Linked DNA regions of Homo sapiens. The protein of the gene in region 2 purifies or fractionates together with the protein of the main gene of each other region. This does not show direct contact. Each region holds a gene or a part of one and is shown on either strand. Other genes may lie near its edges.

The links. Proteins that work in one complex are often made in the same cells at the same time.
Region 1: the proteins of CCDC69 (region 2) and PSMG3 purify together in Homo sapiens (affinity purification with mass spectrometry; 2 studies listed by BioGRID and IntAct, with this or other methods). This does not show direct contact.

Annotation. Positions count from the first base shown.
Region 1 is NC_000007.14:1,567,033-1,574,383, reverse strand, and holds PSMG3 (proteasome assembly chaperone 3), read left to right. Parts: upstream 1-4,351; 5' UTR 4,352-5,044; coding exon 5,045-5,260; intron 5,261-6,533; coding exon 6,534-6,686; 3' UTR 6,687-7,052; downstream 7,053-7,351. UniProt on the Homo sapiens protein: Chaperone protein which promotes assembly of the 20S proteasome. May cooperate with PSMG1-PSMG2 heterodimers to orchestrate the correct assembly of proteasomes.
Region 2 is NC_000005.10:151,220,857-151,228,807, reverse strand, and holds the start of CCDC69 (coiled-coil domain-containing protein 69), read left to right. Parts: upstream 1-4,715; 5' UTR 4,716-4,837; coding exon 4,838-4,885; exon of another isoform or gene 4,886-5,332; intron 5,333-7,951. UniProt on the Homo sapiens protein: May act as a scaffold to regulate the recruitment and assembly of spindle midzone components. Required for the localization of AURKB and PLK1 to the spindle midzone.

The DNA of each region.
Region 1 (7,351 bases), on a different chromosome or scaffold from region 2:
AGCCGAGATTGCACCATTACACTCCAGCTTGGGCAACAAGAGCAAAACTCCATCTCAAAAAAAAAAAAAAAAAAAAAAAACGGTTTCAGGAAGCCCACAAATGGGATGCCAGGGATGCTCAGATGGAGACCAAAGCAGTGGGTCAGTGTGGGAGGCCCTGGCAAAGCTACACAGTCAGGCGGCTGAGAGTGAGGCCACGCCCATGGCTAATGGCCGGATGGTCCTTCAACAAGAAAGGGTGAGACTATTAAACGATGAAGAGAGACGTGGCCAGGTGCGGTGGCTCACGCCTGTAATCCCAGCAGTTTGGGAGGCCAAGGCGGGCGGGTCGCAAGGTCAAGAGATCAAGACCAGCCTGGCCAACATGGTGAAACCTCGTCGCTACTAAAAATGCAAAAATTAGCCAGGCGTGGTGGTGGGTGCCTGTAATCCCAGCTACTCAGGAGGCTGAGGCAGGAGAATCGCTTGAACCTGGAGGGTGGAGATTGCAGTGAGCCAAGATCTTGCCACTGCACTCCAGCCTAGCGACACAGTGAAATTCTGTCTAAAAAAAAAAAAAAAAAAAAGAGAGAGAGAGAGACTTGTGGGGAAATTGATGGTGTCCTTGCCCATTTTTGTAAAACCAATCCTCTTCATCCTGGAGCTGGGAAAATCACACACAATGGGAAGGATAACGTGTGTAGCGATCATACAATTTGTCGGAAAAATTACAATCCTACCAAATCGGCACTTGACTAAGTCTTTGTTGGTTCTACAAATGCACACACCATAGCATTATCACCGACAATTTATTGAATATAAGACAAATTTAAGATACTTTGCTTTTTTTTTCATTTTTCAAAATAACTCCTTGAACTCTTTGCCCCACAATTGGCACCATTACTATTAGATTCCCATTTTATGTGAATGCACTTGAGTGAGTCTTTCTTTCCAGTTCCTTTACCCTTGGGTACTGGAGAACAGTCAATGGCATGCAATGAGGTCCTCTTCCATTCTTCTAGATATATAAATTCTGCCCAGGCATCCATCCAGGCTGCCAGAAAGTCCCTGGACCACCACCTCAGCCTAGGACAACCTTCCACCTCTCATTTCTTTCCTACTGTCTTTATCTTAGATCTAGACCCAAACCACCCAAACAATCCCTCACATAAGTGCTTAGCAGTGTCATCAAAAACAACATCCAGGCTGGGTGCTCACGTCTGTAATCCCAGCACTTTGGGAGGCCGAGGCGGGCAGATCACCTGAGGTCAGGAGATTGAGACCAGCCTGGCCAACATGGCGAAACCCAGTCTCTACTAAAAATACAAAAATTAGCCGGGCGTGGTGGCAGGTGCCTATAATCCTAGCTACTCATGAGGCTGAGGTAGGGGAATCGCTTAAACCTGGGAGGCGGAGGTTGCAGTGAGCCGAGATCGCACCACCGCATTCCGGCCTGGACGACAAGAGCGAGACTCCATCTCAAAAAACGACAACAACAACAAAAATCCATCTTGTTCTTCAACATCCCTTTTTTAAAGGTGATAAGTTTATTTCAGAGGGTTTTCTTTGAGAGGACAGGATCAGATTTCTTGTATCTATTTGCCTACAGAGAGGGAGAATACACAAACAGGTGAATAAAAGCGAGTGAACCTTTTGAAGATTTCAGATGGCAAAGCAATCCACTGGCAATTTGCTTGTGGGGTATGTGTGGGTGGATGTGTGTTTAAATTTAGAGCCGACAGAAACTTAGACTTTCCTGGGAAGTTGATATGCTTCCTGTTTTTTGAGTATTAGAACCATGAAACTCATCATCTCTCCTTTTGTGTACTGGCTGCAAGAATGCTCAAAAATGAATTTCCCCTTGATTTATGTCTATTTTGATCATTTTCTGTATGCATGCTTTTTATTTTAGGCCTCCAGAAATCATCATTGGAAGGAGCATGCTTCATTTGACTTGACTTGGATTGGATACGAAGTCATCAAATGGTGAGAAGAGGGAGTCAAGATCTTCCTTGGAGCTTCAGTGGTGTAAATGTCAGAGGTGTTTGAACCAGAGCAACTTCATCTTGAATAGGGGCTGGGTAAAATGAGGCTGAGATCTGCTGGGCTGCATTCCCAGACAGTTAAGGCATTCTATGTCACAGGATGAGATAAGAGGTCGGCACAAGCTACAGGTCATAAAGACCTTACTGATAAAACAGTTTGCAGTAAAGAAGCTGACCAAAACCCACCAAACCAACATGGCGATGAGTGTGACCTCTGGTCGTCCCAGCTGCTACACTCCCACCAGCGCCGTAAGTTTACAAATGCCATAGCAATGCCAGGACGTTACCCTAAAGGGTTTAAAAAGGTAAGGCACGAATAATCCACCCCTTGTTTAGCATATCATCAAGAAATAACCACAAAAATGGGCAACCAGCAGCCCATGCTGCTCTGCCTATGGAGTAGCCATTCTTTATTCTGTTACTGGTGGAGGGTGTCCAGGTTCTTGGCATCTTGAACAAAGAATTGGACAAAATGCACAAAGCCACCGGGCGCGGTGGCTCACACCTATAATCCCAGCACTTTGGGAGGCCGAGGCGGGCAGATCACCTGAGGTCAGGAGTTCAAGACCAGCCTGGCCAACATGGCGAAACCTCGTCTCTACTAAAAACACAAAAGTTAGCCGGGCATGGTGACGCACGTCTGTAATCTCAGCTACTCAGGAGGCTGAGGCAGGAGAATTGCTTGAACCCGGGAGGCAGAGGTTGCAGTGAGGATCACGCCACTGCACTCCAGCATGGACAACAGAGACTCTGTCTCAAAAAAAAAAAAATGCACAAAGCAAAAAAAGAATGAAGCAACAAAAGCAGAAATTTTTTGAAAATGAAAGTACATTCCATGGTGTGGGGGCGGCCAAAGCATAGAGGCTCAGGGCCCCATTACAGAACTTGTGAGGTTTAAATACCCTCTAGGGGTTTCTACTGGTTACTTGGTGTACGCCCTATGTAAATAAAGAGGATGAAATAAAGTTACAAAATCATTTACTCAGTGTACACCCTATGGAGAGGGTATTTCCTGTCATAGCTGAAGTGTTCCCTGCCTCCAGACCCTGTTTTCCTGCCTCAATTCCTTTACTTTTCTAATAAACTTGCTTTCACTTTGTGGACTCGCCCTCAATTCTCTCTTGGGGTCTGGATCGGGACCCCTTTCTGGTAATATAGACAGAAAATACGGCCTTGACATGGTTGTCAGGAAACGACAGTAAGGCCTCCGAGGGTGGGGTTCTGAAGGGATGTTAAACGCCCCACCCCGAGGAAGGCTCTGGAGGCTCCAATCACTTTCAGCCTCTGCTACCAAGATGTCCGACCCTACCAATAAAACTTCCAGCAGCGGGGCGCGGTGGCTCACGCCTGTAATCCCAGCACTTTGGGAGGCCGAGGAAGGCAGATCACCTGAGGTCAGGAGTTCAAGACCAGCCTGACCGACATGGTGAAACCCCATCTCTACTAAAAATTTAAAAAGTTAGCCGGGCCTGGTGGCGCACGCCTGTAATCCCAGCTACACAGGAGGCTGAGGCAGGAGAATTGCTTGAACCAGGGAGGCGGAGGCTGCAGTGAGCCGAGATCGCGCCACTGCACTCCAGCCTGGGTGACACAGCAAGACTCCGTCTCAAACAAAACAAAACAAAAAACCTTCCAGCTTGGAGAAACTGAGAGTGAGCAGTAGGGAGTGAGGGGGTCCCTGGGAGGAACCAGAACTCATCCCGCTTCAGGGTGGGGCTGGCCCCCTTCTTGGCCTTGGCCGGGGCTTCGTGTCACGGAGCGCCCGAGGGACGGTCGGAGCCCACCCCAGCCCGCCCGCCGCCTGAGCCTGGCCGAGCTCTCTGCACCTGCACACGTCTGTAAAACGCGGATGAAACGCTTCTACGGAACCGGGTGGCTGAGATGAAGTGAGTTATGGGTATAAAGCGCTTAGAGCGATGCCTGGCGGACACTCGGTGCCAAATAAGCGTTCGCTGTGGCGACGATGACGCCTCCAGCCCAAAGCCCGTGGTCGAGCAGGGCCGGGCTCCCAGCGCTAGGGGGTTCCTAGGCGCGGCGCTTCGGGGGTCCTGGACACAGACACGGGGGACAGAGCTCCTACCAGCGACGATCCCGAGGGTCTGCAGCAGAGGGGCTGAGGCCCGGGACGGGGGTGGTCGCAGCGCCCTTTCCTGAAAAAACGGGGTTCGGCTCTAAGGCGCCCCCAAGCCCTGCCGGCAGCGCGGAACCCGAGCCGCTCAGAAGCCCGGGAGCCCCAAGTCTCCGGGACCAGAAGCGCCGCGGCCCTGACTTCCGGAAGGTGGACGGAACCCGCGGACGGGGCGGGCCCGCGTGGCGCACGCAGAGCCACTTCCGGGCGCGGCGCCGGCTTGGTGAGCGCGGGTACCCGCGGGCTTCCCCGGGCGGCTGCGTCCCCAGTAGCCCGGCCGGCCTCGGCACCGCGTGTCGTGGGGGTCCCGGGCCGCGGCTGCAGGGCCGGGGCGGCGGCGAGGCCGAGGGGCGGGAAGCCACTGCCCGGCCTGGCAGTGTGAACGTGCAAGTCGATCCCCTAACCCAGAAAGCCCCAGGCGCGGTCTCTATGGGCGGCCCCGCTCCTGCTTCTGTTTTATTTTTTTACGGACAGGGTCTCGCTCTACCGCCCGGGTTGTAATGCAATGGTGTGATCACGGCTCACCGCAGCCTCGACCTCCCGGGCTGAAGCGATCTTCCCGCCTCAGCCTCCTGAGTAACTGGGACCACAGGCGCGCCCTGCTGGTTTTTTTTTTTTTTTTTTTTGGTAGAGATGGGGGTCTCGCTATGTTGGCCAGGCTGGTCTCGAATTCCTGGCCTCAACGATCGTCCTGTCTCGGCCTCCCAAAGTGCCGGGATGACAGGCATGAGCCACCGCGCCTGGCCCCTTCTTTTGAATGGGCCTCCTTGCGTTTCCGTTTCAATGCCCCGTGCTACTTTTTTGGGAGCCCCAAGGCTGTACTGTTTGATTGACTCCTTTTTTTCCCCTTTCTTTTTAACCTAAATTAAAGCTGCCACTGCAGAGCCCCGCCATGGAAGACACGCCGTTGGTGATATCGAAGCAGAAGACGGAGGTGGTGTGCGGGGTCCCCACCCAGGTGGTGTGTACGGCCTTCAGCAGTCACATCCTGGTGGTGGTGACCCAGTTTGGGAAGATGGGCACCCTGGTCTCCCTGGAGCCCAGCAGCGTGGCCAGTGACGTCAGCAAGCCTGTGCTCACCACAAAAGTCCTTCTGGGGCAGGATGAGGTAAAGTGGATTGGCCGGGAACTGTGGCTCACGCCTGTAACCCTAGCACTTTCAGAGGCCTAGGCGGGCAGATCGCTTGAGGCCAGGAGTTTGAAACCAGCCTGGGCAACACAACAACACACACACAAGTCACTACAAAAAAACAAGTGCCTACACAAAATATATATATAGAGAGAGGCTGGGTGCAGTGGCTCACACCTGTAATCCCAGCACTTTGGGAGGCTGAGGCGGGCAGATCACTTAAGGTCAGAAGTTCCAGACCAGCCTGGCCAACATGGGGAAACCCCATTTCTACGAAAAATATAAAAATTAGCTGGGTGTGGTGGCACATGCCTGTAATCTCAGCTACTCAGGAGGCTGAGGCAGAAGAATCGCTTGAACCCGAGAGGCGGAGGTTGCAGTGAGCTAAGATCGTGCCACAGCACTCCAGCCTGGGTAACAGATAGAGACTTGGTCTTAAAAAAAAAAGGAAAAGAAAAGGAAACAAAAAATTAGCTGGGCCTAGTGGTGTGTGCCTGTGCTCCCAGCTACTTGGGAGGCTGAGGTGGGAGGATGGCTTGAGCCCTGGAGGTTGAGGCTGCAGTGAGCCATGATTGTGCCACTGCGCTCCAGCCTGGGTGAGAGAGCAAGACTCTGTCTTTAATAATAATAATAATAATAATAATAATAAAGTGGTCAGGAAGGGACCCCCAGGGAGGAGCATAAACCTCTCCAGTGGCTGTGATTTGTCAGTAAGGACATGGGGCATCTGGCGGACAAATACCCCTACAGCGATAGCATTTTCCGGGCATTTGTGGGTCTCAAGGCGCCCTGCTTGCCCTCAGTGGATGCTTTGTCCAGCCCGCAGGCATTTTATCCAGCAGACAAGCAGAAGCAGCAGTTTTGTCATTCGAGCCGCCTCCCCTGCCATGGTACATTACGTGAGCAGGCGGCTGGCTGTGCTGTGCTCTGTGGAGATCACACGTGAGATTCGACAGCACTCGCTTCTGCAGGCTTCTCTTTCCTGGGTTCTTTTAGATGAGAGAGAGCCAGAAGAGGCGGGGCTGCGGAAGGCGCTGGGAAAATGAATGGAGTGATGGTCTTTAGCAGTGTGCCCGTGACTGGAGTGTTCTGAGTGCTGCCAGAACTCTGAGTCACAGTTGCATGGACTTATGTGGCGGTTAATGGTGGTGTGGGAAGCCTGCCTGGGTTCCTAAGGGATACTTCATGAAAGCATTGAGGAAAAAACCAGGTTTCTTGCAGTTAAAATGGTTTCTTCTCCTTCCTTTACCAGCCTCTCATCCATGTCTTTGCAAAGAACCTGGTAGCGTTTGTGTCTCAAGAAGCTGGAAACAGAGCAGTCCTCCTCGCCGTGGCCGTGAAGGACAAAAGCATGGAGGGGCTGAAGGCGCTGAGGGAGGTGATCCGGGTGTGCCAGGTGTGGTGACCTGGAGGCAGCCGCCCCGCGCTGCTCAGCAGGACACGTGAACACCCAGACACCCACTCAGGGACTCAAGTCTCACCTCCCTCCCCGGTGGAGGGAGGAACTTTGGCACTAGCCCTTGGAGCCAGGAAAAAAGACTCGTGTCTCAGGCAGACTCTTACTCTGGTTACTAAGATCATCTGTGCATGACGGGGAGGGTGGAACAGGTCCCGGAGGAGTCGTGAATGGTTCTCACCAGGACCTGAATCGTTGCTTGTGTTTGAGAATTGGAGGAATGAGTCAGCAGGCGTGGCTCATGGCCCCCCCGTGTGCAGGATCAATTGTAGGAGGAAATTTCTTTTTTATTAAAAGCGAATGTGTATCCCAAAATACTTCACTGTCCTCCTTAACAGTAGCGAGACATTGCAGCCGCACAGCATGAGTTCAGTTTCATGGGCTTCATGAAGGGAAGCTTGTTGGGCAGAAACGCAGAGGGACGTAGTTCCCAGGAACTGGGTGGATCCCATGCTTGGGCCTGTGCACGCTGTCACCCAGCTCCAACTCCAGTAACTTCTCTGAGCCTGCTGGGAAGCTGGTGGCCGTCAGCGGACATCTCTTACTATCTTAATGTGTGTGCCCGTTACCGTGCTGCAGCTGGGGACAGACGCTGTCCTCTGAATCCTGCATAG
Region 2 (7,951 bases):
TGCACCTTGACTATGCCTTGGCCATAGGGTGACCAACCATCCCAACATGACTGGGACTGAAGAGTCTCTGGAGATATGGGACTTCCAGGGCTAAGAGTGGGAAAATCCTAGGCAAGTCAGGATAAGTCACCCTACTTGCCGAAGAAGTAGTAGCTACTTATTGATTGCTAACTATGGTAGACATTATGCTATTTGCCAATATTTCTGATTCTCCTCTCCTTCTGCACACACATTGCACTTTCCCATCCTCTTAAAGTTGGGCATGATTGTTTGACTTGCTTTGGCCAATGAAATGTGAGTGGACCTAATGTGCGTCTCCTCCAAGTGGAAGCAGTTAAGGCCCTATGCACTATTCTCGGTACACTCCCTTCTCTTTGTGCAGCAAATCCTAAAGCCGTCATGTTGAGAAGGCTGTGTTATATGACGATGTGGAACGTCTCTGTGAAGCAGAGCCCACTGCCTGCCCGTTCTGGACACGTAGTGTGAGCAAAAACTTAGCTTCTCTTGTGTTAAGTCACAAAGTCTTGTGTTATGCTTTTTATTGTCTCAGCAAAACCTAACCTAACCTGACTGGTACACCAACCATCAAAAATCTCATTGGCAACTTTATCAAACTCATGCTGCTCAAGTTTCTCAGGCATGAACTTCAAAACACATGACCAAAAATCCAGCAGTGGGAAATTGTGAAATCTGAACCTGCTCTCCCAGGAGGCTCAAAGAGGCTGGAGGCAAGACGTCTTGAGAGCTGGGGCTCCAGGGAAAGAACTTGCCTCCTAGTTCCTACCCACCACTCCAAGCTATTCATTTTATTTTCTTCTGCTTTATTTATTTTTAGAGACAGTGTCTTCCTCTGTTACTCAGGCTGGGGTGTAGTGGCATGATAGTAGCTCACTGTAATGACAAACTCCTGGGCTCAAACAATTCTTCGGCCTCTGCCTCCTGAGTAGCTGGGACAACAGGCTCACGCTACTATGCCCAGCTAATTAAAAAAAATTTTTCTTTTTTACAAGGTCTCATTATGTTGTCCAGGCTGGTCTCAAACTCCTTGCCTCAAGTGCTCCCCCTGTCTAGGCCTCTCAAAATGTTGGGATTACAAGTGTGAGCCACCATGCCTGGCCCCAAGTTATTAATTTCAATTGTTGACATTAAAATTTGGGGTCAATTTTGGAGAGTTCAACTCTTCAACATATAGATGAGAAACTCTCAGAAAGGAGAAATTACTGGTTCAGGATCACTTTACGGGTTTGGATCTCATGCTCACAGTTTAGCCATCTTTGCCCTTTATGTTGCTTTTCTACCTAATTAATCACAGTCATTGTCCATTTCTTTAGGATTTCACAGAACTGCCCATGTCTTGATGATGAAAAACTAATGATAGTTTCATGTATGGGTTTAAAAACATATTAAAAGAAAACTTTTTCATATTAAAATAATATTGTTTATTACAATAGTAATAAGTGCATGCTCATTTTTTTTTTTTTTTTTTTTTTTTTTTTTTGAGACGCTCTGTCACCCAGGCTGGAGTGCGGTGGCGCAATCTTGGCTCACTGCAAGCTCTGCCTCCCAGGTTCACGCCATTTTCCTGCCTCAGCCTCCCAAGTAGCTGGGACTACAGGCACCCAACACCACGCCCAGGCAAATTTTCTGTATTTTTAGTAGAGAAGGGTTTCACCATGTTAGCCAGGCTGGTCTCGAACTGCTAGCCTCAAGCAATTCTCCCACCTCAGCCTCCCAAAGTGCTGGGATTACAGGCGTAAGCCAGTGTGCCCGCCCTCATTATTTAATATAAGAAAATGAAGCCAGGCTCAATGGCTCATGCCTGTAATCCCAGCATTTTGGGAGGCTGAGGTCGGAGAATTGCTTGAGGCTAGGAGTTCGAGACCAGCCTTGGCAATATAGTGAGACTCTCTATAAATTTTGTTTGTTTGTTTTTTTGAGATGGAATCTCACTCTGTTGCCCAGGCTGGAGTGCAGTGGCACGATCTCTGCTTACTGCAACCTCTGCCTCCCGAGTTCAAGTGATTCTCCTGCCTCAGCCTCCCTAGTAGCTGGAATCACAGGCATGCACCACCATGCTCGGCTAATTTTTAGTAGAGACGGCATTTCACCAAGTTGGCCAGCCTGGTCTTGAACTCCTGACCTCAGGTGATCCACCCGCCTCAGCCTCCCAAGGTGCTGGGATTACAGGCATAAGCCACTGTGTCTGGCCTACAAAAAAAAATTTTTTTTTTCTTTGAGAGGGAGTCTCGCTCTGTTGCCCAGGCTGGAGTTCAATGGCACAATCTAGGCTCATTGCAACCTCTGCCTCCCGGATTCAAGCAATTCTCCTGTCTCAGCCTCCTGAGTAGCTGAAACTACAGGCACACATCACCACATCCGGCTAATTTTTGTATTTTTAGTAAAGACAGGGTTTCACCATATTGGTCAGGCTGGTCTCGAACTCCTGACCTCAGGTGATCCATCCACCTCAGCCTCCCAAGGTGCTGGGATTACAGGCATGAGCCACTGTGCCTGGCCTACAAAATTTTTTTTTTTTAAATTAGCTAGGCTTGGTGGCAGGCACTTGTGGTCTCAGCTACTCGGGAGGCTCAGGTGGGAGGATCACTTAAGCCTGGAAGACTGAGGCTGCAGTGAGCCATGATCACTCCACCGCCCTCCAGCCTGGGTGATATTGCAAGATCCTGTCTCAAAAAAAAAAAAACTGTTTTAAAATTTCAAAATCTCACCAATACAGTGGTAGTCACTCAATTTTTTTTTTTAATGAAAATGAGTTTGTTATGTTTTGTAACACAAAAAATTCATCTTCATCAGTATTTTTGCTGGTTATGTGGCATTCTATTTTTATGGATATAGCATAATGTATTTAACCAACCTTCTTTTCTTGGCTGTTTAGGTTGTTTTGGGTTCTTTGTTTTTAATCATGAGCACTGTTCCAATAAACATTGTTAATTTTAGTATAATTTAAGTATATCCTGTTTCTTCAGTACCTGTGGAGCACGTCCTATGGCAGGGGTTCTCAAACTTTAGCCCAGGCCAGACATGAGTGGAGTGCTTATGAAGCCATAGATTCCTAAGCCCCATCCCCAGAGTTTAGGCCAGGGGTGGGGCCCGAGAATTTGCATTTCCAACAAAGGCGGCTGGTAGTGCTGACACTGCTGATTTGGGAATCACACTTTGTGAGCCACCATTCTCTATTATACTTGCTTTTGAGAACCTAATAACACGTTTCCTTAGTTTCCTTTCTTACACACTTTTGCAATTGGTTTTGTACCCTATGGAGGGAGCAATTTTTTTGAGGTCTCATATTCTTTCCCCATTCATGACTCTAAGCCGTTTTCACAGCACACCTTTCCAAGAGTTTTGGGCCTGACTTTAATATTCCAATATACACGCAAATAGGCATACACACTGATTTTCAAAATTGGTTATCTTTTTCCTGCATTGCCATTTCAGAAACCTCAGCTAATAACAAAGAGAAGATAAACAAAAGCTCCTTTTCCTAGACACTGACATTTTATGTCCCATAGTCACCATACCTGGCCTGCCTCAAGAGGTTGTTGTGATGAATAACATCTATCCAAGATGGATAGAGTCAAATATTACAGATGCTTGTGAGGTGGAAAAAACTATCAGCCCAGAAGTGAGGAGGCATTAAAATTAAACTTAGTATTATTGGCCAGGTGTGGGATCCCAGGACTTTGGGAGGCCGAAGCGGGCGGATTACCTGAGGTTGGGAGTTTGAGATCAGCCTGGTCAAAATGGTGAAACTCTGTCTCTACTAAAAATACAAAAATTAGTTGGGTGTCGTGGTGCATGCCTGTAATCCCAGCTACTGGGGAGGCTGAGGCAGGAGAATCACTTGAACCTGGGAGGCAGAGGTTGCAGTGAGCCAAGATCGTGCCACTGCACTCTAGCCTGGGCAATAGAGCGAGACTCTGTCTCAAAAATAAATAAATACAATAAACTTAGTATTATGATTTATTTGTAGGCCATTGAGTCAAAGTTTAGGTTCTGGAGTTAGAACTGTATTCTGTGCAGTGGCTCATGCCTGTAATCCCAACGCTTTGGGAGGCCAGGGTGGGAGGATCGCTTGAGGGCGGTCGTTCAAAATCAGACTGGAAAAAAGAAAAGAATTTGGTTGGGTATGGTGGTGAGCCTCTGTAGTCCCAGCTACTCAGGAGGCTGAGCTGGGAGGCTCGCTTGAGCCCAGGAGTTTGAGGCTGCAGTGAACTATGATAGCGGCAAAAAAAAAAAAAAAAAAGGAACTGGATTCTATCTGGGCTGTGGTAACTTACTAGCCATGTGACCTTAGGCAAATCATGTTGCATCTCTGAACACCATTTTCCTCACCTGTAAAATGGAGGAAGTAATACCTTTGTTGCACTGATATGGCAAGAAATAGAAATAAAATGTATAAAACAACTGGGACAAAAACAGCCCTCAATGAATGATAGTTGTTAGTTTATCAAATAATTGCTTTAATTATTTTTTCCCCCGGCCCTTTCTTAGCTGAGGGTTCGGAAAAGCATCTGTTGCTCCTTGAGGTTTTCTTTTCTTCTGCCCTGACCAGAGCTTCCTATTATTTAGAAGGATTCTGGTCACCTGCCTCTGGTGGCGGCGCCGCTGGCCCTGCGGGCTACACTGAGGCCCCGCTCTTCGGGTATTTACGGCGGGCGGCCGCCCCAGCTCAGGCTCAAGACAGCGCTTCCAGGTTCAGTTTCAGGGTCTCGCCGGCAGCCCCAGCCGGCGGGCGCGGAGCGGGCAGCGGGGCCCGGATCGCAGGCTCCTCTGGGGGCCCCGGAGTTGGGAAGCGGCGTCCGGGAGCCCCCGGAGGAGGATGGGCTGCAGACACAGCAGGCTGAGCAGCTGCAAACCCCCGAAAAAGGTAAAGGGCGCCGGCGGAGAAGTTTGCTTTCAGAGGAGAGGGGAGTGCGGAATCGCTCCGCCGCAGAGGACTCGGCGCCCCGGGCTCTCTCTGGTCGGCCCGGGATACCGGACGGAGAACCTGGAGAGGCCAGCTCAGAGACGAGGGAGGCTCTGCTGGGAGGCGCCCTTTACCCCGGCCCGAGCCGCACCAAGCAGCCGAGTTTACAAACACGGCACCCGGGCCAGGGAAAGGCAGCTGATTCCCGCTGCCTCGGGTGGGGAGATGTCGTGTGTCTGTGGCAGGTGCCCTCTGCTTTCGGTCTGGGGCTGTTCGCTGTGTGGCCATGGACAAGTGACTTGACCTCTCTGGGCCTTCGGCTTCCTCCCCCCGGGGGTTAAAGGCTGATAATCTCAGGGCTGCTCGAAGAGTGTTCCACAGACTCGCAGTATCAGCATCCCTGGGGACCTGTCAGAAATGCAGAATCTCAGGCTCAGGCCCAGTCTTGCCAAGACAGAAGCTGCCTTTTAACAATATGCCCAGGTGATGACGCTTTAAAGTTTGAGGCGCTGGTCTTAGGGCTCTTGCAGGCCCCAGAGCTGGTGAGTGTGGGCTGCCCTTGGGGTAGCTGGGAGGGGCCAAAGAGGGAGGAGATCTACTGCGTTCTGTGGCCCTCTCCTCCCTTCCTGTCCTTCCCCCAAGGGGCCTTGGAGCTGGGTCAGGGCCCAGGGGACAATTCTCAGGTTTCTTGCAGTGAGACCAGCTGCCCCTTGGGGTCTGACGAGCCCAGAAGGTCAGAGCCTGGAGCTAGAAAGATAGCCTCCTCAGGGGACACTGTGAGGCAGAGGGGAAGAAGGACCCTCAAATTCTGGCCCCTTTTCTTACCACTACCTGCCCCCTAGCCAGGTGGGACTAGGTGATCCCTTAAACTTTATCATCATTCCCCCTTGAGACCTTGAGAGGCCCCAAACTGTGACAGTGTTTAATAGTTTTGCAATGAACTTTAGTCCTCCCTCTGCTCCTGCTTTGCTTGTGCCCTGAGTACAGGTTTTTCTGCCTAACAGTAGTCCTAGCCTGGAGGATTCTACTCCCTTCTCTGACACCTCCTGGCTTTCCTTGCTCTCCCTTTATTACCAGATTGAAATTCTCACCAACTCCTGACCTAGAAACCCTCATGTCTTTACTCACTCCAACAGGGAAACTGAGGCTTGGCTCTATCAGTAGAAGGAAGGGGCTGGCTGACAGGGATGACAAGGCGGAGAGACCTGAGCCTTGGCTGAGACTTGTAACTGAGCAAGTGGTAGGCAGACATTAGCCCTGGGTGTAAGTCCTGGTGGTGCCATAAACATACTGGGTGACCCCAAGCAAGCCCTTGTGTCTCCCTGGGTCTCAGTTTCTCCCTGTATGGGGAGTGATGAGCAGGATGATCCCTAAGCATCTGAGAGTCTGTGTTCTCTGCACCTGTGTCAACCTTGTAGCTTGCAAAGTGGACCAAGGGTGAATTCCATCTACCTAGAGGTGGAGGAAACGGGGAAGAGCCTGACCCTTCCACAAGCTGGAAGAGGAGGTCACAGTAAGCACAGGTTCTTTGGCTCCTGCTCCTTCTGAGAGACTTACCAGCTGTTCCTGCCTGTCCCTGGCACAGCCAAAGCTCTGAAGGGCAAGTAAAGCTGGCACAGCCTGTCTGAGTTGGAAAGGGCCTTTGGGTACTACCTGGGCTGACGCACCCACTATACAGATAGGAGGTTAAGGCCTAGAAAAGGGAAGGAGCATGACTGAGGTCACAGAGCAACACAGAGCAGAACCCAGGTATCTAGTCCCCTAGCTCCGTGTTCTTTGTCTCCACCTCCTCCCGCTGTGCTTCCAGTGGCTTCTTGATGACTTTAGCGTAAAATCTTTTACTCCTGTTGCCTCAGAGAACAGCCTGGCATGCCTTCTTGGCCCCAGCCATGCCAGGCCCCTGCCCCTATATGGCAAGATTTATGGGCTGTTTTTGTTTAAAGTTCTCATCCCTGTAGGCTGTGCTCCTGCCCAATTTCTCACCCAGGTGCCAACCCCTTGGAAGGCATGAGCTCCCAAGTTCATCCCCAACAGGCTACCAGCCCCCTGGGAGAGAGGGGGACTCCAGGGATGGGATGGACAAAAATGAGCTCAGGCTACAGAGGGGTTAGGTTCTGATAACCATGACTCACCCTGAGTGTTTACAGCATGCTTTCACATCCCGCCCAGTCTCACAGAAGCCCTGGAAGTTAGGCTGAGCTGCAGAATCTTTCCCACTTTACCGGGGAAACTGAGGCTCAGTGAGGAACGATGGGTCCAAAGTCACACAGCCAGTTGGTGGCAAAGCTGTGCAGTTGAGCCTGGCTTTCTGCACTCCCCATCTGGTGCTCATTGCCTTATACAGATCATGGAGCAGGTGCTTAAGTAGATATTTGAGTGAATGAGGGACAAATAAGAGCCATGCTAGGGGTTGGCCCAGGGAGCAGTAGGAGCATCACATCTAGCCTTGAGAGATGCAGGAAGGGTTTTTGAGGAAGGGTGGTTTGGAAGGTATGGCAGGAGTTACCCACTCATGGCCAAGGCCTAAGCAAAGGCTGAGCCACTGAAAGCACAGCGTGAGGGGGTTCTTTGTGGAGAATGGAGGTGGCAGGCAGCAAGGAATGAGGCAGGCACTTTTAGAAAGGATTATCCTGGCTAGGGACAGGAGCTTGACCATGAGGCCTTCTCATGTCCCTCCAGGTTCAAGGATCTGGGGGTCTGCTGAGTTCTGTGGTCTATGGTGCCTGTTGGGCTTGGCCGACTAGATGTTCTAGACCACCCTGAGAGGCCTGGCCTGGGACTAGGTCACTGCCTTATTGGGACAAGTTGAAATGCTGGGAATAAATGAATAGGGTTCCTGGCAGGCTGGGGGTGGGTGCTGAGGAACCATCTGGATCGTGTGGTCCTGCCTAAACCCTTCTTCTTGGCAAAGACCATGGCTAATGTGGTCACATCCCCCAGGAGGACTCAGGAGAAGGCCAGGCAGAGTGGGTAGGGGTCAAGGAAACAAGCCTTCTGGGGAGTTGCCAGCCACAGTGGTAAGGAGGG